Regions from separate parts of the Homo sapiens genome. Here regions 1, 2, 3 and 5 are each linked to region 4. The links come from fine-mapping of genetic effects on gene expression. A gene starts in region 4. Each other region holds a variant in brackets. All regions are shown on one strand. Distances are between the middles of the regions.

Region 1 (4,148 bases), 240 kb after region 4:
TATAGACAGTATATGTAAAGAATACTAGAATTTTCCAACACTTATATGAGTGAATTCTTATCCCCACCACTTTCCAGGATATCATACATTTTCATATCTTTTGACAATAACATTCAGGGAAACCTCTAATGTATGAGACGATTTTCAAAAATCCTCTAAAATAAAGCAAAAAGTCTTTCAAAATATCATCATTCATTTAAGATAGTTAAATTTTGGGTGTCTACAAAGAACAATGAATGATATAACTAGATTATATACACTACAGTGCCATGTTTTTGCAACACAAGTCCTATTCTTCTTTTTTTTTTGAGACAGAGTCTCTCTTTGTCGCCCAGACTGGAGTGCAGTGGCACGATCTCAGCTCACTGCAATCTCTGCTGCCCAGGTTCAAGCGATTCTCCTGCCTCAGCCTCCCGAGTTAACTGGGATTACGGGCACCCGCCACCACGCCCAGCTAATTTTTTTTGTATTTTTAGTAGGGACGGAGCTTTACCATGTTGGCCAGGCTGATCTTAAACTCCTGACCTCAGGTAATCTGCCTGTCTCGGTTTCCCAAAGTGCTGGGATTACAGGCGGGAGCCACTGCACCCGGCTCTATTCTTCAAGTTAGAGCAAACACCTGCTCTCAAACTTTTCTCATTTAACTTCCAGGATGCTGCACTACTGCTTTTCAGCTGGTTCCTCCATCAAACTCTTCTTAATGTCTTTTGTCAAACTTTGCTAATATTTTTCCATCTTTTTCTTTATCCTTTCTTTTTTTTTCTTTTTTTTTTTAAGATGGAGTCTTGCTCAGTCCGCCACGCTGGAAGTGCAGTGAGGTGATCTCAGCTCACTGCAACCTCCGCCTCCAGGGTTCAAGCGATTCTCCTGCCTCAGCCTCCCAAGTGGCTGGGATACAGGCGTGTGCCACCATGCCCGGCTACTTTTTGTATTTTTAGTAGACACAGGGTTTTACCATGTTGGCCAGGCTGCTCTCAAATACCTGACCTTAGATGATCCGCCCGCCTCAGCCTCCCAAAGTGCTGGGATTACAGGCATGAGCCACAGCGCCCGGCCTATCCTTTCTTTCACATAATACAGATACATTTCATATAAATACAAAAAATGGAACAAAATACTGGGTTTTTTCATCAATATACATTTCAGCATATATACATATTGAATACACATATTTCAGCATAAAAATGAGATCTCGCATTATATTGTTCCTACTATCTCTACCTTCGTCAAAAGATCATAAAAACACCTAACATTCAGGTGTTTTCTTTATGATGGCTCAAGATGGGAGAAGTATAATTATTCTCATATCCAAATTATCATACCTTGTGTTTGTAGGGACTCCTAAATTATCCATTTGGTTGTGCTAGCAATATTTTTACTCACCTAACTGGCTGGTTGTTTGGACCCACATCTGTAAAGCCCATTTTCTGCAGTTTTTGGTACCTATAACATTCATAGTGCTGAGTGTGGGTTTTTTCTTTTAGATTTTCCATATTGGTACAAAGAAGCATATCTCGGAGCTTAACGAAGTCACAGTGATTTTCATTTTCCACTAGTAAAAAAATAATAATGAATCAACAACATTCAGTATCAATCCCTGACAATCAGTAAGTGTTCATGAATGAATACATGAATAAAAAACACATTTAAAATAACACACAACTGAACAATTTGATTAATAGCTATAATTCTTTTAAGCATGTAAGTGTGGTTGTACTATACATACCAACCATAGGCAGAGATTATTTATAGGTTAGCAAATTTGCTTTAAACTTATTACCTGAAGAATAAGCAGGAAATAGTGAAATAATATTTTATGTGCATATATGCCATAGGTTTTTATTAACAATTGTGTAGTATGTTATAAACTACCTCTGGGTATTTTGGAGTGCTAACAGAATATGTAATATAACATCACTAGTGTAAATAATTTTATCAGAGTAAATTCTGCTAGCAAAAAGGCCTTACAATTGAAAATACTTTAGTTACATATTTCCATTTATATATCATATTTAGGAGACACCGTTAGTCAATATTCAAAATCAATCAACAAATTCACATAGCTGTTTTAATGATACATACAGACTGACAGTGAAGACACGGAAAGATATTTCATGCAATTAGAAACTAAAAGAGAAGGCACGGAAAGCTATACTCCTATCACAGAAGATAGACTTTAAGTCAAAAACTGTAAAATGATATAAAGAAGGTCATCATATCATGATGAAGAGGTCAGTTCATTAAAAAAATAACAA[T/C]TGTAAATATATATGCACCCAATATCACAACTTCTAAATATATAAGGCAAATATTAGCAGACCTGAGGGGGAGATAGACTGTATTACAATAATAGTAAGGGACTTAGATACCCTACTTTCAGCAATGGATAGATTATCCAGACAGAATATCAGTAAGAAAATATCAGATTTAAACTACACTTTAGACCAAATAGACCTAATGGACATATGTGGAATATTTCATCCAACAGCAAAGTAATACCCATTTTTCTCAAACAAACACAAGACATTCTTCAGGATAGATCATATGTTAGGCCACAAAATAAGTCTTAACATATTTTAAAAGACTGAAATAAAAATGTGAGTGCACATGTCTTTTGACAGATCAATTTCATTCCACTAGGGTACATACCCAGTAGTGGTACTGCTGGATCATACAGTAATACTATTTTTAGTTTTTGAGGAACCTTCATATTATTTCCCAAAATGGCTGTACCAACTTAAATTCCCACCAATGATGTTTAAGAATTCCCTTTTTTCTTAGAAATATATATACACTGCTGGTGGGAATATAAATTAGTTCAGCCATTGTGAAAAGTAGTTTGATAATTTCTTTTTTTCTTTTTTTGAGACAGAGTTTCGCTTTTGTCACCCAGGCTGGAGTGCAGCAGTGCGACCTCAGCTCACTGCAACCTCCGCCTCCTGGGTTCAAGTGATTCTCCAACCTCAGCCTCTCAAGTAGCTGGGATTACAGAAGTCCACCACCAGGCCCAGCTAATTTTTGTATTTTTAGTAAAGATGGAGTTTCACCATGTTGACCAAGATGGTTTCGAACTCCTGACCTCAGGTGATCCACTCTCCTCAGCCTCCCAAAGTGCTGGGATTACAGGCATGAGCCACCACGCTCGGCCTGACAATTTCTTAAAGAAGTTAAAACAGAACTACCATTTGACCCAGTAATCCCATTACCAGGTTTATATCCAAAGGAATATATATTGTTCTATCATAAAGACACAGGCACGTGTATGTTCATTGCAGCACTATTCACAATAACAAAGACATAGAATCAATCTAAATGCCCATCAATGGTAGACTGGATAGAGAAAATGAACATATACACTATGGAATACTACACAGCCATAAAAAAAGAACAAGATCGTGTCCTTTGCAGCAACATGAATGGAGCTGAAGCCATTATCCTAAGTGATGTAATGCAGGAACAGAAAACCAAATACCACATACTCTCATTTATAAGTAGGAGATAAATATTGAGAACACATAGACACAAAGGGGAGAACAACAGACACTGGGGCCTCCTTGAGGGTGGAGGGTGGGAGGAGAGTGAGGACAGAAAAGCTACTATGCTTACTTTTTTTTTTTTTTTTTTTTTTGGTTAGTATATGTGCTGCTAAAGTGAGCAATTTTTTTTTTTTGAGATGGAATCTCGCTCTGTTGCTGAGGCTGGAGTGCAATGGCACGATCTCGGCTCACTGCAACCTGCACTTCCTGGGTTCAAGTGATTCTCCTGCTTCAGCCTCTTAAGTAGCTGGGATTACAGGAGCGCGCCACCACACCTGGCTAATTTTTGTATTTTTTAGTAGAGACGGGGTTTTGCCATGTTGGTCAGGCTAGTCTTGAACTCCTGAACTCAGGTGATCCACGTGCCTCAGCCTGCCAAAGTGCTGGGATTACAGACTCAAGCCACTGCTCCAGCCAGTACTATGCTAATTATCTCTGTGATGAAATAATCTTTTACACCAAACCCCCATGACATGCAATTTATCTATATAACAAATTTGCACATGTACCCCTGAACCTAAAATAAAAATTAAAAAAAAAAAAAAAAGAATTCTCTCTTCTCCATATGCTTGCCAGCACTTGTAATGGCTTGTCTTTTTTTTTTTTTTTTTGAGA
Region 2 (4,148 bases), 150 kb after region 4:
CAAGACTCTGTCTCTAAAAAAAGAAAGAAAGAAAGAAATTAAAGAGGACACAAATAAATGGAAAGACATTTCTCGTTCATGGATGGGAAGACTTAATATGGCTAAGATGTCCACACTAACCAAAGCAATCTATTGATTCAATGCGATTCCTACCAAAATCCTGATGGCATTTTTTGCAGAAATAGAAAAAAAAAAAACTAAACTAAAATTCATACGGATTTTTTTTTTTTTTTGAGATAGAGTCTCACTCTGTCACCCAGGCTAGAGTGCAGTGGTGCAATCTCGGCTCACTGCAACTTCTGCTTCCCGGGTTCAAGCAATTCTGCCTCAGCCTCCTGAGTAGCTGGGATTACAGGGGCCCGCCACCATGCCTGGCTAATTTTTGTATTTTTAGTAGAGACAGGGCTTCACCATGTTTGCCAGGCTGGTCTTGAACTCCTGACCTCAGGTGATCAGACTGCCTCGGCCTCCCAAAGTGCTGGGATTACAGGTGTGAGCCATGGTGCCTGGCCTTGGAATCTTGAAGGACTCTAAAGAGCCAAAACAATCCTGAGAAAGAAGAACAAAGCTGGAGGCCTCACACTTCCTGATTTTGAAACATATTATGAAGCTATCATAATCAAGGCAGCATGGTACTGACCCAAATACAGACACATAGACCAATAGATCAAAATAGCCCAGAAATAAACTTTTGCCTATATGGTCAAATGATCTTTGACAAGGGCTAAGGCTACACAGTGGGTAAGGATGGTCTCTTCAATAAACGGTGCAGGGAAAATTGGATCTCCACATGCAAAAGAATAAAGTTGGAGATTCTTACTTTATACCATAGGAAACAATCAATTCAAAATGGATTAAATGCATAAATATAAGATCCAAAACTATAAAACTAGGAAAAAAACACAAGGGAAAAGCATCATGACATTGGATTGGATATGACACCAAAAGCACAGGTAACAAAAACAAAAACAGACAAAGGGGACTTTGTCAAACTTTAAAACTCTGAACAGCAAAGAAAACAATCAACAGAGTAAAAAGGCAACCTAAAAAATGGGAGAAAATGTTTGCAAACCTCATATATGATAAGGGATTAATATCTAGAATATATAAAGAACTCCTAAAACTCAACGACCACAAAATAATCCAATTTTAAAATGAGCAAAGGGATTGAATGAATATTTCTCCAAAGAAGATATACAAATGGCCAACAAGCATATGAAAAGATGCTACACATCACTAAACAGCAGAGAAATGCAAATCAAAAACCACAATGCAGGCCAGGCATGGTGGCTCACGCCTGCAATCCCAGCACTTTGGGAGGCTGAGGTGGGTGGATCACCTGAGGTCAGGAGTTCAAGACCAGCCTGGCCAACATGGCAAAACCCCGTCTCTACTAAAAATACAAAAATTAGCCAGGCATGGTGGCATATGCCTGTAATCCCAGCTACTCGGGGGGCTGAGGCAAAACCCCGTCTCTACTAAAAATACAAAAATTAGCCAGGCATGGTGGCATATGCCTGTAGTCCCAGTTACTCGGGGGACTGAGGCAGGAGAATTGCTTGAACCTAGGAGGCAGAGGTTGCAGTGAGCTAAGAT[C/T]ACGCCATTGCACTCCTGCCTGGGTGACAAAAGTGAAACTCTGTCTCAAAAAAAAAAAAAGAAGGAAAAAGAAAACCGCAATGCAATATTACCTCACACACACTTGTTAGAATGGCCACTATCAAAAAACTGGAAAATAAAAAGTGATGGAGAGGATATGGAGAAATTGGAATCTTTGTGCACTTTGATGGGAATGCAAAATGTACTTGCTCTAGAAAATGGTCTGTAGGCTCCTCAAAAAATTAAAAATAGAAGTACTGTATGATCTAGCAATCCTATCTCTTGGTGTATACCCAAAAGAACTGAAAACAGAATCAGGCCGAACGCAGTGGCTCATGCCTGTAATCCAAGGTTGAAGCTTGAGTCCAAGAGTTCAAGACCAGCCTAGGCAACCTGGTGAAACACCATCTTTACAAAAACACAAAAATTAGCCATGTGTGGTGGTGCACAGGTACTGTAGTCCCAGGTACTCGGGAGGTTGAAGTGAGAGGATCACTTGAGCTCAGGAGGTCAAGGCTGCAGTAAGCTGTGATCATGCCACTGCACTCGACCCTGGGCAACAGAACAAAAGACTCTGTCTAAGCCGGGCGCGGTGGCTCACGCCTGTAATCCCAACACTTTGGGAGGCTGAGGCGGGCGGATCACCTGAGGTCGGGAGTTAGAAACCAGCCTGACCAACACGGAGAAACCCTGTCTCTACTAAAAATACAAAAATCAGCTGGGCATAGTGCTGGGTGCCTGTAATCCCAGCTACTCAGGAGGCTGAGGCAGGAGAATCACTTGAACCTGGGAGGCGGAGGTTGCGATGAGCTGAGATCGCACTACTGTACTCCAGCCCAGGCACTAAGAGCGACACTCTATCCCAAAAAACAAAACAAAACAAAAAAACCACTCTGTCTAAACTAAAACAAAAACAAAACCACAACAACTCAGATATTTGCACACACATGTTCAACTCAGCACGATTTACAATAGCCAAAAGCTAGAAGCAATCTAAATGTCCATAGACAAATAAATGGATAAAAAATATGTGGTATACACACACAATGAAATATTATTCCGCCTTAAAAAGGAAGGAAATCCTATCACATGCTACAATATGGATGAACCTTGAGGACATTACGTAAAGTGAAATAAGCCAGTCACAGAAAGACAAATACTGCATGATTCCACGAATTATATGAGGTATCTAAAGTAGTTAAACTCATAGAAACAGAAAGTGGAATGTTGTTATCAGCGGACAAGGAAGAGGGAAAAATGAAGAGAAGTTGTTCAGTGGGCATAAAGTTTCAATTTTGCAGGATGGAAAAATTCTAGAGATATATTGCACAACAGTGTGAATATAGCTAACACTATTATACAGTTCAAAGTGGTTACAATGGTAAATTTGATGGTTTTTTTAAAGTAATAACAGAGTGGGTGTGTGCAAAGGTGTGTACAGAACACAGCAAAACACAAGGGATAGTACCTCTGTGGCTGGGTGGGGAATGCTGCTATCACACCTGAGCTTGAATGACAGAGACAGAGAGGGCAGCTAGGGGCTACCTGACAGAACTGGGCCCTTTAGTTTAGGGCCACAATCCATGGTGACCCTACAGACAGGAAGCCAGAGGAATACATACCTTCACCTCACTCTCTTCCCTCGCTTTGAACATCTGATGCCTGATAGGGTTTGGATCTGTGTCCATGCCAAATCTCATGTTGAAATGTAATCCCCAGTGTTGGAGGTGGGGCCTGGTGGGAGGGCTTAGCGCCATCCCCTCGGTGATGAATGAGTTCAGAGATCTGCTTGTTTAAAAGTGTGTGGCACCTCCCACCCTCTCTCTCTTGCTCCTGCTCTTGCCATGTGAGATGTCTGCTCCCCTTTTCCCTTCCACCATGACTATAAATCTCCTGAGGTCCTCACCAGAAGCTGACGACAGCATGCAATGCTTCCTGTACAGCCTGCAGAACTGTGAGCCAATTAAACCTCTTTTCTTATAAATTACCCAGCCTTGGGTATTTCTCTCCAGTGATGCAGGAATGGCTTATCACAATGTCCCAATGGCTGAACCCAACCAAAGCCAGAAGACAAAGGGTCATTAATGTAACCCATACTATGCACATGTAGTCCATACATGTCAGCCTCCCAGAGCAAAAAGCAAATGGAACAGGTGAAGGGTGGACCTAGAAAGGCAAATGGAAACCACCTAGCACATCCAACACCCTCCTTTCCTCTCCACCAGCTTGTTTTTGTCCCCTTCCATCACTGCCCCAGGGGAGTGATGGGAAAGTTGTCTGTAGCACCCTCTGATGATGCTCTTTAAAATTATTAACCCAAGGACCACTAAGACAAGAGACATCATAGTCAACACACTAAACTGCCTACACAAAAGCTCACATTATATTGGCAACACATTACTTGAGATAAATAACTATCCTCATGGCTATATTCTTTTTTTTTTTTTTTTGAGATGGCGTCTCACTGTCACCAAGGCTGGAGTGCAGTGGCACGATCTTGGCTCACTGCAACCTCTGCCTCTCATGTTCAAGCAATTCTCCTGCCTCAGCCT
Region 3 (4,148 bases), 120 kb before region 4:
AAAGCTGCCCCTCCCTGTGACTGGCTGGGGTCACCTGGAAGGAGCCAGCTGAGCTCCGACCAGGTTCCTGCAGAGGCGTTCTGGCCACCGAGCCTGTCCTGGGAGAGGAGAGCAGCGAGCAGCCTGGCCTCCCGAGGGGACAGGAGCCCTCCACCCCCGCACTGTGCCCTCTACCGCCCCTGCCTCGGTAGGTCCTGCCACCCTCCTGCGGCCCCTGCAGCCCCTCAACACGCCTACTTCTGGGCATCAGGGATGTCACTGGTGCCAGAGGTCCCAGAGACCTTTAAGTACAAACCTGTCACCCTTGAGGGGAGAAACAAACATGTCACCCTTGAGGCGTAGCACCCAGGTGGTCAGCAGACCTTTGGAAATGCGGTTGGATGAGAAGCCAGGATTTCTGCCCTCTGTCCGCATCTTACATTTCTGTGCACCCACACTGACAAGGATGGTAATAAAGAAAAAGACGAGCAACGATTGCATTTCACCTACTTCCATTTGCTGAGAACATCTCACTCCTTCCAGGGACCCCTGAGCTTCCCCTTGGGAGTTGGAGTCACCGACTTGTGGCTGGGGGCACATTTCGGGCAGGAGACCTCAGGCTGGTCCTAGTGTTACCTCCCCGACCTGGGGGTGTTCTTGAGGTCCCACCAGTCCTCCGCCTCTTCTCTTGGGTGTCCCCAGCAGCACCTGGATGCCATTTCAGGGCTGACCACCCAGCACTGGAACTTGTGTAACCACCCAGAACCCAGGAGCTGGGCATTTCCCTATGCACTCTGGTTCTGCACTGTCCAGTAAATCACTCACCAGCGCTACCAGCTCTTATAGCCCTTGAAATGTGGCCACTCCAAGTGGAAGTGTGCATTGAGTATGTGTTATACAAACTGGATTTTGAATATGGAAAAAAGTAACATTTCTCACTCACATACTTTTATATCATTACATGTTGAAATAATACTTTGATATATTAGGCTGAATATCATTAAAATAATTTTTTTGATTAATCTTTGTAATGAAAATTTAAAGCAATGCACTGGTTCACATCATACCTTTAGTGGACAGCACTGGTAAAGAATATACATCTAAAAGCTTTTCCCCACGTAAGCTTTAAAGTAAGATGCAAAATTCCTTTCTTCTACAAAAACATGAAGGATTGTCATTGGTAAGGGCTGCGCCCAGGCAGTTTTCACAGGTACACACTTGTTATCAATCTTCTGTTCCCATGTGCACTGAATACTAGGTCTGTGGCAAATGATATCAGCACTGTTTGTGATTTCTGGAGTCCAGGGAGAAAGACAAAGAGAGTGCTCTCCAACATTCCTGTCACTGTTGAAAACAGACCAAGCCACGTTGCTCCTCCTTCATTATACTCTTGAGACCTGCACAAGAACATACATCTTTTTTTGTAAAAGTGAAGCCTGGATCTTCAGGGCTGGCATCAGAGGGAGATCTCCTAGGGAGGAGATTCAACAGGACTCAAATCTAATTCCCTTCACCTTCTTCTTGCGGGTAGGGGGTGTCTTGACAATCATCCTTGCACCCACCACACCATTTATAGGAGGGCACTGGGCCCCTTCCACACAGGCACAGGAGTGGAACGAGATCCTTTCTGGACACTTCCGCACAGCCCATCTGAGACAGGAACATTACAATAAAAAGTTATGGGGTAGGGGGCAAAAGAAACGCCTGAAGTACAGGAATACCTGGGAAATGTTGCAGGTTCAGTTCCAGAACACCATAATTAAGTGAACATTGCAATAAAGTTTGAGTCATACAAATTTTTGGTTGCCCACTACATATAGAAGTTGTTTACATTATACTGTAGTCTATGAAGTGCACAACAGCATTATGTCTAAAAGCCACAATGTACATAGCTTCATTAAAAAATACTTTATTGTGGCCGGATGTAGTGGCTCACGCCTGTAATCCCAGCACTTTGGGAGGCAGAGGCGGGCGGATCACAAGGTCAGGAGTTTGAGACCAGCCTGGCCAATATGGTGAAACCCCCGTCTCTACTAAAAATACAAAAATCAGCTGGGCGTGCTGGCGGGTGCCTGTAGTCCCAGCTATTCAGGAGGCTGAGGTAGGAGAATCACTTGAACCCAGGAGGCAGAGATTGCAGTGAGCCAAGATCGTGCCGCTGCACTCCAGCCTGGGCGACAGAGCGAGACTCTGTCTAAAAACAAACAAAAAAGCTTTATTGCTAAAAATGCTAACGGTTATCTGGGCTTTCAGTGGGTCATAATCTTTTTGCTGGTGGAGGGTGTTTTCCCAGTGTTGACGGCTGCTAACTGATCAGGGTGGTAGTTGCTAAAGGTTGGACTGGCTGTGGCAATTTCTTAAA[A/G]TAAGACAACAATGAAGTCTGCCGCATTGATTGACTTTATTTCAGGAAAGATTTCTCTGTAGCATGCGACGCTGTTTGACAGAATTTTACCAATAGTAGGACTTCTTTCAAAATTGGAGTTAAACCTCTCAAACCCTGCCACTACTTTACCAACTAAGTTTATGATATATTCTGAATCCTGTGTTGTAATTTCAACAATATTCACAGCATCTTTAGTAGGAGTAGATTCCATTTCAAGAAACCACCTTCTTCACTCATCCATAGGAAGAAATACCTCATCCATTAAAGTTTTACCATGAGATTGTAGCAATTCAGTCACAACTTCAGGTTCCACTTCGAATTATATTTCTCTTGCTATTTCCACCACATCCACAGTTATTTCCTCCACTGATGTCTTGAACCCCTCCATGAAGGGGTTCAAGTCATCCATAAGGTTGGAATCAACTTCTCCCAAGCTCCTGTTAATGTTGGTATTTTGACTGCCTCCCATGAATCACAAATGTTCTTAACAGCATCTAGAATAGTAAATCCTTTCCAGAAGGTTTTCAATTTACTTTGCCCAGATCCATGAGAGGAATCACTATCTATGACAGCTATAGCCTTACAAAATGTATGTCATAAACAATAAGACTTGAAAGTCAAAATGACTCCTTGATCCATGGGCTGCAGAATGAATGTGTGTTAGCAGGCATGAAAACAACAATAATCTTCTATGTCTCCATCAGAGCTCTTGGGTGATTAGGTCTTTTGTCAATAAGCAATAATATTTTAAAAGGAATCGTTTTTGCTGAGAAGCAGTGCGCTTAAAACACTAAGCTAACCATGCTGTAAAAAGATGTGTTGTCATCCAAGCTTTGTTGTTCCATTTATAGGATAAAGGCAGAGTAGATTTTGCATAATTCTTAAGGGCCCTAGGATTTTTAGAATGATAAACGAGCACTGGCTTCAACTTAGCTCACCAACTATATTAGCCCCTAACTAGAGGGTTAGTCTGTCCTTTGAAGCTTTAAAGACAAGCGCTGACTTTTCCTCTCAAGCTACAAAGTCCTAGATGGCATCTTCTTCCAGTAGAAGGCTGTTTTGTCTACATGTAAACTCTGTTGTCGAGTGTAGCCACCCTCCTCAGTGGTCTTAGCTAGATCTTCTGCATTACTTGCTGCAGCTTCTACATCAGCACTTTCTGCTGCACCCTGTACTTCCAAGCTATGGAGATGACTTCTTTTCTTAAACCACATAAACCAACCTCTGCTAGCTTCAAACTTTTTTTCTGCAGTTTCCTCACCTCTTTCAGCCTCCATAGAATTGAAGACTATATCAGCATTGTGTGTCACTGGAATAGCGCTTTTAATTTCCTTCAAGAACTTTTCCTTTGCATTCACAAGTTGGCTACCCGGTGCAAGAGGCCTAGCTTTCAGCCTGTTTCAGCTTTTGACATGCCTTCCTTACTAGACTTAATCATTTCTAGCTTTTGATTTAAAATGAGTGACATACAACTCTTCCTTTCACTTGAACACTTATAGGCCATTGTAGGGTTACTAACTAGCCTAATTTCATTATTGTTTGTTGTGTGTCAGGGAAGAGAGTGGGAAAGAGATGAGGGAATGGAGGGTAAGGCAGTCAGAATACACGTTTATTGATTAAGTACACCATCTTGTATAGGCAGAGTTATTGGCACCCTATAGTACAACACTAACATCAAATATCACTGATCACAGATCACCATAACAGTTATTTATTAATGAAAAAGTTTGAAATATTATGTGAATTACCAAATGAGACATAGAGATAAAAAGTGAGCACATGCTGT
Region 4 (4,000 bases):
TCTGCCTTTAAGGTCGTTTCAACTTTGCAGACATGATCTGAACTCCTATTAAGAGGATACATTCCTATGCAACGAAACAGCTATTTTGGAAAGAATGGAGTCACTGAGGCCGTCTAGGCTACATATAGGGCACAGAACCACTCAGACAGAAGGCTTGGGAGACATGGGTGGCACAAACTAGAATGAAAGAAACGCTAAATAATTTCATCAAGTGCCGATTAAAAAAGATTGCAGGGCCGGGCGCGGTGGCTCACCTTGTAATCCTAGCACTTTGGGAGGCCGAGGCGGGCGGATCACCTGAGGTCAGGAGTTCGAGACCAGCCTGACCAACATGACGAAACCCCGACTCTACTAAAAATGCAAAAATTAGCCGGGCATAGTGGTGGGCGCCTGTAGTCCCCGCTACTGGGGAGGCTGAAGCAGGAGAATAGCTTGAACCCAGGAGGCGGAGATTGCAGTGAGCCAAGATCGCGCCACAGCACTCAAGCCTGGGCCACAGAACGAGACTCCATCTCAAAACTAAAGAAATAAATAAATAAAAATAAAAAATAAAGATTGCAAGTATAGGTACACACATTAAGGTACAAGCACATCTGTTTTCATGCGATTACTGGTCTCTGATTCACTTCTTTGTTCTCTATGGTGAGTCACTCAGAGAATGTGATTCCTAAGGTTCTAAAATTCTGAATAAATGGAAAGAATGCAAGCAGAGGCACTCCACAAAAACATTAAATACCAAGCTACGGGGATATTTCCGAACAGAAACAGGAAGTCTCGGCTATGGCAGAGCCTGGAGCAAGGAGAAATTTGTCCACCAGCCTTCCTTTCAGGAAACACTTTTCCTCCAACATTTTGTAATAATTACTTTTTAATAAAGGGCGAAGACAAACTAGTAATTTCCAGCACCAATCACTAACTATTAAGGAAGATAGTTTCACAACTTCCTAAAACAGAGGCATGGGATTCATTACCTATTTCTTTTGACTTCATTAATTTAACGCAAATTTCCTTCAGAATAATGAAACTAAGGAGAAAGTTGAACAAGCCCTGATTCAGACTGGACACCCCAGAATTCCTCTAGTTCGCATTTTAAGGAACCTGCTTTAGTGAGAAGTATGTGGCCCCATCCGAGGATGCAATTTCACAGCCAGGAGCAGCCGCGGTCCCCGCCAGGGATGCGGTCACGGGCGCTCGCACCCGGAAGCCGCTCAACAAGTTCCCCGCCGGCTTCGGCTCCGCACCCCCACCCAGCCAGGCTCTCCGCAGAATTTCCTCCCCGCACCTAAAGGCTGCACTTCATTTTCACACGCGGGAACGCCTCCTCCCGCTGCTCACCTCCACAACTCCCGGCACTCCCGCGACACTTCCCCACAGTCCCCTCCGCCCGCTCCCCTCACCCCGGCTCGGCACCCATCCTTTCCTAACCCCAAACTGCCCGGCGCCCCGGGCTCTCCGCGCCTGCGCCGCGCCCGAGGACCACCCCCGCCCAACCCCGGGTCCATCCGATCCTCGGCCCTCTGCGGCGGGGAGAGGGGGCGGACGGTGCACAAAGGTCACCCCGAGCTAACGGAGGCGGTCGGCGCGGGAAACGCGCTCACCCGCAGGGTGGGGGCGGGGTGCGAAAACCGAAGGAACGACGGAAGGCGCGGACCGGGGCGGGAGCCTCCCCGTCACCAGGGTCCCGCACCTCCCAGCTCCGGGAGGCGCGCAGGGCTGTGGCTCCCCGTCGCTCCACCGTCTGCGCTCCCAGGCAAGGTCCTCTGGGGCGCCTCGGAACTGCGCGCCCCCAGCCGCCAGCATGGTGGGCGCCGCGCCTCCGGCAGCACCCGGTCCCCGGCCCCTACCTCCAAGAGCAGCCCGAGCAGCAGCGCCGCCACCTTCGCAGGCTGGCGCCTCATGGCTCCTCGCGTCCTCTCCAGCGCGCCCGGACGCCGGGTCGCAGGCGCGCTTCGCGACTCGGCCCCCGCGCGGGGCGGGCGGGCAGACTGCAGCCGGGAGCCGTCCCGCCGACCGCTGGGGGGCCCGGCTGGGAGCGGGCGGGAGCCGGGGCGCGCCGCGCAGCCCTGGCTGCGCTCCGCCCCCGGCCGCCGCGCGCTCCCGACACGCCCGGCCGGGCGCGCGCCTGCGGGCTCCCGGAACCCGAGGCCCGGCCTGGGGCGCGGCTGCTGGGCGCTAGGCCCGCGACGCTGAGGTGCGCGCGCCCCGGGCGGGAGGAGGGGCTGCACCGCCTGGCGAATGGGAGGGGGACTGGCAGGCTCTCCCTTCCCAAGGGAGGTCGTCCTGTCGCCCTAGACTAAACCCAGGAAGGCTTTTAAAAGAAGCAGAGTCTCCGCGGGGGGAAGCTTGTTCCCTGAGAGGTGGCCGCAGACGAACCCACTGCTCAGTCTGGCATCCCGAAGCCGCTCCGCTCCTGGCTCTCCCCGCTGTTCCTGCGCGCAGCGGGGGCAGTGCCCCCACACCCACGCGTGATGGGAAGGCCGGCCTGGGGGTGGGAAGGCCCACCGAAATAGATGGTCCCCACACCTCACTGCTTCCTTGGATGTGGCTATTTTTTATGCCAGTGTTCTCCTGCTCTGACCCTACTTGAACTTGACCGCAACCGGCCCCGCCTTGCAGGCCACCCTCCCGCAGCAGAAAACTGTGCGGAGCTCGCGCTGTCCTCGCCTCCGCTGACCCCACCTCCATGTCCTCACAGACACTATTTTTTCACAACACAGCTCAGATCCCACCTTCTTCATGAGGTTATTCAACAAACACTATTAAACTTGTAAGATGTACCAGATCCTGAGTTGGAGGCTGAGAGGAGGACAAGAAAACTGCTCCCGTAGCCTAGAGGGAGGGAGAGTCGCTTAAACCACCTGATGCAGAATGCTGAGTGCGGAGACCAGGAGGTGGGTGCATCACAGAGGGTCATAAAGGACATGAGCTGCGCAGTACAGGAGGTGGAAGGAGGGGGTCACACGAACAGATGTCACCCGAGGCAAGTCCCCAACTCTTTCCCAGCTTTCAAAGCCTAATTTGATTAATATAGAGCATGCACCACCTGACTATACCTGTCAGAGCCAGAACTTACAAGTAAGACAGAAACAATGCCTATGGCCTTCAGTCATGCTAAGGCACCTATCTGACAAGCCTGCCAAACGCCATTGAACTCTAGTAGTTTTACTATTTACAATGAGGACATTTTACAACTCTTTTTAATGGAAAAGTTAACTTGTAGAAAACTAAGCTGAAAGCTTATTGTGTGTTAGCAAGACAAATGTTTTTCCAGTGGGGATAGAAGTGATCTCGTCCTGTAAAAATGCAAATGGGCCAGGCAGGGTGGCTCATGCCTATCATCCCAGCAGTCTGGGAAGCTGAGGTGTGAGAATTGCTTGAGCCCAGGAGTTCACCAACCCCAACCTGGGCAACACAGCAAGAACCTGTCTCCATTAAAACGTGTGTGTGTGTGTGTGTGTGTGTGTGTATAAGACAAATGACCCCTGCTTAAGGTGAGAATCATAACCAGCTTCCTATCTGATTGAGCCACTTCATTCCCAGCGTTTCCTTTCTCTTTTCTCCCCGCTTTTGACTGTGTGTGTAGGTCACTTGCCTGCATTCTCCTTTGAAGCACCTTTGTCATCCCACTGTTTCCATCATTAATGGGTTAAAATGGAACTTTGACTTGTGTCCACGATGTATTCGTGTGCAAATTGTGGTTCTGTTGCATTGTGAGCAACCTACTAGTGTCTGACATAACCTCCCTTCTGCATCTCTCTCTGCCTGGAAGATTGTTTTGCTGAGCTCGACTTCCTGTAATTTGTGCAAGTTTTTTTCCAAGAATAAAATTAGAACTGTGACTCTGCTTTCACCTCAGTCTGATACCTCTCCTGTGTGCTCTCTGTTTGGTCCTGAATGATGTGGTGGTTGCTTGGCATGGTTGGAGGATGGGGTGTAGGCTAACCAGCCAGGCTGTTTCCTTGAGCACAAATTATAAGGGCATCAGATACCACTGAAAAAG
Region 5 (4,148 bases), 79 kb before region 4:
AAGGAAGTCCACACCACCCACCACAGTATGTAGGAGTTTTAGATGGCTAAGGCAATGTTTTACAAGAATTAAGAAACAGCTAATTCATTTTGACCCTGGGATGTCACTTTGGGTGTTATGCACTAAACAGACTACATGTGACCTGTACAAGAATGTCTATTGCTATGGTCTTTGTAAGTATTTGGAATACTAGTAACTGCACAATGAATACTTGTTGAATGCATGAATAAAAGACAAAACATGAGAAAACAAAACAAATTATCAGCAATAATAAAATATCTAAGCAAATTACCATTTAGTAACATAATTAGTATCTAGTCCAGAAGCACTAAAAATGGCAGGGGTATTACCGCTCCTACACAGAAATTTATATGTGAAATAATGTTTAAGGAAAAGGGCAGAGAGCAAATAATACGCTTATACAAACTGCATCATATCACGTGCATATGTGGCACACTGATAACTGTAAGAATATGAGGTGACGGGCGTGCGATATACCTTACATTTGTTATCTGCACAAATGCACAATGGAGCTGGTCATCAGAACTAAAAAAATGAATAACACACCTGAGCGCTCTCTTCTGGCAGTACCCTTTCTGCAGCAGTACCCTTTATAAATGTTGGCAGACGACACACACTGTGGGGAGGAGAGACAAGGACAGGGCTGGCTGACCTGGGCCGGGATTTGGGGGCTGCCTGGTGTAGGACACATTGAAGGCTGGCTCCTCGATCAGCGGCGGGGGGTACATGCGCCTCCGGATGAAGAAGCCGGCTCCGCAGCAGAAAAGCACGCCCATCATCAGAAGGAACCTGAGGAGAGTACAGACGTGAGGGTGGTGCTCCCAGGTGGGGGCCCTGAGGGCTTGGCCCTACAGCTCAAAGGCCTCATGCACTCCTCGGGGGTCCGGGACCAATGACTCCCAAATGCACGAGTCAGAAGGCAAGGGCAGAGCCATGAGGCTCGCACCTCAGACTTGGTCCTCTTGGGCCCATTTTACCCAGGGACATTCCTCTAGTGGATAGCAACAAGTAGATGCTTGACCTGCGGCCTCTGGGACAGCCCCTGGTGAGGCCACCCACCCTGAAAAGCACCGTAAAAGAAAAAGCTCATGCAGTCACTTCCTCGTCCACGGCTCTGACCTCAGCTCGACATTTTAGTTAGAAGAGGAGATGCCATCTAAATCCTGTCTGAAAGCCATGGCCGATCCAGCCTTGGCCTCGCTGTCTGTCTCTGTTTTCCATTCTTCACTGTCAAAGCACCAAGGCAGAGCACATTTATCCTCCAGACCACGTCTCCATTATCACATCAACACCCACAAGGAAACAGAAGTACCCTTCCTGGAGCACACCTTAATTACAGAGAAACTATGGGAATAGAAATACAATCAATGAAAATAGAATCAAGAGAAATACAATCTATCAATAGAAATAAAATACAAACAATAACAGAAGCAGAGCTGAACTCTTTAAGGGTAGCACCTTTGTCCAACCCATCTGTGAATTCTCATTGACTATCACTTCATCAGCATTCAGTAAACGACTGCAGAATGAACACATGAATGGCTTCCTTCCATTCCTCACTTGCACCATACTTTTTGTTTCTAGAAAAAGAGGAGAGTCACTTTGAGAAGAACTAGTAGTAGACAAAACTGGCAAACTGGCAAACTCTTGCCCATCTCTGAACTGAAATTATGAGGGGACCCATGGAACTGTCCAGAAGCCATGCAGACACCCACACGGTGAGGGCACCTGCTGCCCTGTGAGGATGGGCACACAGCAGAG[C/T]GGGTCGCAGTCAGTGGCACTGGTCCACATATAAAAGAAGCTCTTAAGAGCGTACGATAAAGCCTTTGAGAATATTAATGTGATGTCAAGGCCTTCAGCCAGTCCAAAAGTATTTACTGGATAATCTTGGAAGGCTGAGCAGGGAGAAAAGCCAGAGGCACGAGACAGGAATGACTCAGGAAAGACTGAAACTGTGGCCTTTGTCATCTGCCGTCTAATTCATTATTCATTCAGCAAGTCATCTTCAGGTGCCTGCTATGCCCTGTCACCATACTGATCACAGCAATGAGTAGACAGGTGAGGGGCCCCCCGACCCCGCCAACACTGAGCTTACAGAGGAGGGAGACAGATACCAACTTTTACAATTATTTATCTACAACCTGGTAAGTGCTAAAAAAGAAAAATGAGCGATGCAAGAAGAATACTGTGTGTGTGATTGGGTAAAATATACATAAATATAATTTACTATTTTAATCATTTTTAAGTGTATAATTCAGTGCACCAAGAGGTTTGAACAAGGGTATCTGTGGTGGTGAGCAAGACTGGGAACACTGCATTTCTTTTAGTGACAGCTGGGCTGGGCTCTGAAGAATGAGAAGAGACAAGCTGAAGGGGAAGAAGGGGCATTCTGGGTGGAAAGAACACAGAGCAGGTACTGGGGCCGGAGAAGGTGGGAGCAGGAGGCCTGGAGGCTCAGTCCCCATGATGGGCGGAGGGAGCGGCCATGGGGAGCCCGGAGACCCAAACCGTTCAGGAGTGTGGTGATGTAAGGCTTAATGTGCTCGGCATCAAGAACACTCACTAAGTTCCCAAAGGGAACGGCTTCCTCTCCTAAAACCGATTTCCCTCAGGTGGGCTCAGTGACAGTCTTACACTCAGCACTGAGTCCTGCTGTTAGTATCTGGGTAGAAATATACAAAGCACAGAGAGGCTGGATGTGTACAGGGTTTACTTTCTCAGAGCCACTGGCCACTTCCAAGAGACCAGGCTCGCTGGATTGAAAAATGCAGAAGGCACCTGAGATCTTAGTCTTGTCTAAAAAATAAGCTAAAATGTCGGTTCCACTGCCAACAGTAGTAAGAACATTTTGTTTTTCTACACAAAAGGAAATGACATTGCAGCTCCCACCTTAGACTAATGGTGAGCAAGCATAAGGCGAGGCTGGAATGGAGTTACACGGGATCCACTTCATCCCTTACTGAAATCATAGTCTGATAACTTATTCTGTTCATTTATGTTTATTTTAAAAATTTATTTAAAATAATTTTTGGTAGAGACGGAGTCTCACTATGTTGCCGAGTGATCTCAAATTCCTGGCTTCAGTGATCCTCCCACCTTGGCCTCCCAAAGTGCACCATTGTGCTAGGCCAAGAACTTATTTTAAAAGAGAGAAACTAACAAAGGGGCAGGAGAAAGCGCTTCTAAAAACAAGGAAAGAGACGAAGCAGGGTGTTGGCTGGGAGAGAGGAGTAGTAGTAAGAAAGGCAGTTCTTGCAGTGCTGGGGGTACGGGCTGGCTGTTCCCTAGATGTCCTCTTTGGTTGCTCAGCAGGTTTTGGAAGCTTTCAAAGGGATTAAGAGAGGAAGGTTTGTGCCTTTTTTTTAACATTAGAAGTTACCTGGTTACTTTAATTCAATTTGTTTTTTGATTCCTCCCCCCGACCCCCCAGCCCCGAGTGTAGCAGTTCTCAATTCTGCAGTCCCAAGGACTGGTGCAGCTACTGTGCAAGCCCTGCCCAGACCCCACTCAGGACTCCGCATGGGACCCTGCTGTGGACTCACCCACAGTGCCACCTAGGCTAGTTCTCACTCGGGCCCACTGTGCTTTCTGAGTCCACTCAAGGGTGCCATCGGTCCACCTTCTCTACTCTTGATTCCATCCAGACCTCCTTGGTGAAAAGATCCTCAAGATCTTGGAGTTGGCAGGAACTCTGAAGGCATTCTCTTTCAAAACCTTTGTTTTATGGTCAGGAGACACCTTCAAACGTTGTGGGGCCCAGGCAGCAGAGCAGCCCCTCCCTCCCATCCTGCCGCCACTCCTGTCCACCAAATGCTCATCCTCACCACAGAAGCTTCCCATCACCTTTTAACACATCCACTCTTCTTACACTCTGGCCCTGCAAGGTGCTGTCCCTCTGCCCCAAACGCCCTCTCTGACGACCCAGTCAAAAGCTTTGTAGCTTTCTCCAACTTTTCTGGCTTCAGAAGTTCTGTGCTCTGGCTTGAAAGTATCCACACCTCATTATCTGCTTAGACATCATCTTCTTCAGGAGTCTGCCTGCCTAAAGCCTCTCCATAAAACCCCAGCACAATGCCTGGTGTATATCAGACCCGATGTTGATTGAGAGAGAAAATGCATGGGGTGAA

What was found. PIP is the estimated chance that this variant, and not a neighbour inherited with it, causes the effect. A credible set is the group of variants that fine-mapping cannot tell apart.
Region 1: its variant is the best candidate, but not a certain one, in a credible set for the expression of VOPP1 in whole blood (TOPMed, PIP 0.64).
Region 2: its variant is the best candidate, but not a certain one, in a credible set for the expression of VOPP1 in whole blood (INTERVAL, PIP 0.65).
Region 3: its variant is the best candidate, but not a certain one, in a credible set for the expression of VOPP1 in whole blood (INTERVAL, PIP 0.60).
Region 5: its variant is the best candidate, but not a certain one, in a credible set for the expression of VOPP1 in lung (TOPMed, PIP 0.58).

What each region holds. Positions count from the first base shown.
Region 1 is chr7:55,805,707-55,809,854 of GRCh38, forward strand. SEPTIN14 (septin 14) reads right to left here. Exons shown (of 10, transcript NM_207366.3): 8 at 1,384-1,552. Among named protein-coding and RNA genes, the nearest start is that of SEPTIN14, 55 kb to the right of the region's middle. The variant T/C (reference allele first, on the strand shown) is at 2,256.
Region 2 is chr7:55,717,622-55,721,769 of GRCh38, forward strand. No RefSeq gene overlaps it. Among named protein-coding and RNA genes, the nearest start is that of SEPTIN14, 140 kb to the right of the region's middle. The variant C/T (reference allele first, on the strand shown) is at 1,597.
Region 3 is chr7:55,449,615-55,453,762 of GRCh38, forward strand. It overlaps a transcript of VOPP1 not described here. Among named protein-coding and RNA genes, the nearest start is that of LANCL2, 86 kb to the left of the region's middle. The variant A/G (reference allele first, on the strand shown) is at 2,342.
Region 4 is chr7:55,570,427-55,574,426 of GRCh38, forward strand. VOPP1 (VOPP1 WW domain binding protein) reads right to left here and starts at 2,076. Exons shown (of 5, transcript NM_030796.5): 1 at 1,845-2,076. The coding sequence starts at 1,898. It overlaps VOPP1-DT (VOPP1 divergent transcript), which reads left to right and starts at 2,340. Exons shown (of 17, transcript NR_187585.1): 1 at 2,340-2,891. RefSeq lists enhancers at 1,070-1,129, 3,459-3,538, 3,869-4,000 and a silencer at 1,330-2,309.
Region 5 is chr7:55,491,609-55,495,756 of GRCh38, forward strand. It overlaps VOPP1 (VOPP1 WW domain binding protein), which reads right to left. Exons shown (of 5, transcript NM_030796.5): 4 at 674-810. Among named protein-coding and RNA genes, the nearest start is that of VOPP1, 79 kb to the right of the region's middle. RefSeq lists an enhancer at 1,466-2,665. The variant C/T (reference allele first, on the strand shown) is at 1,783.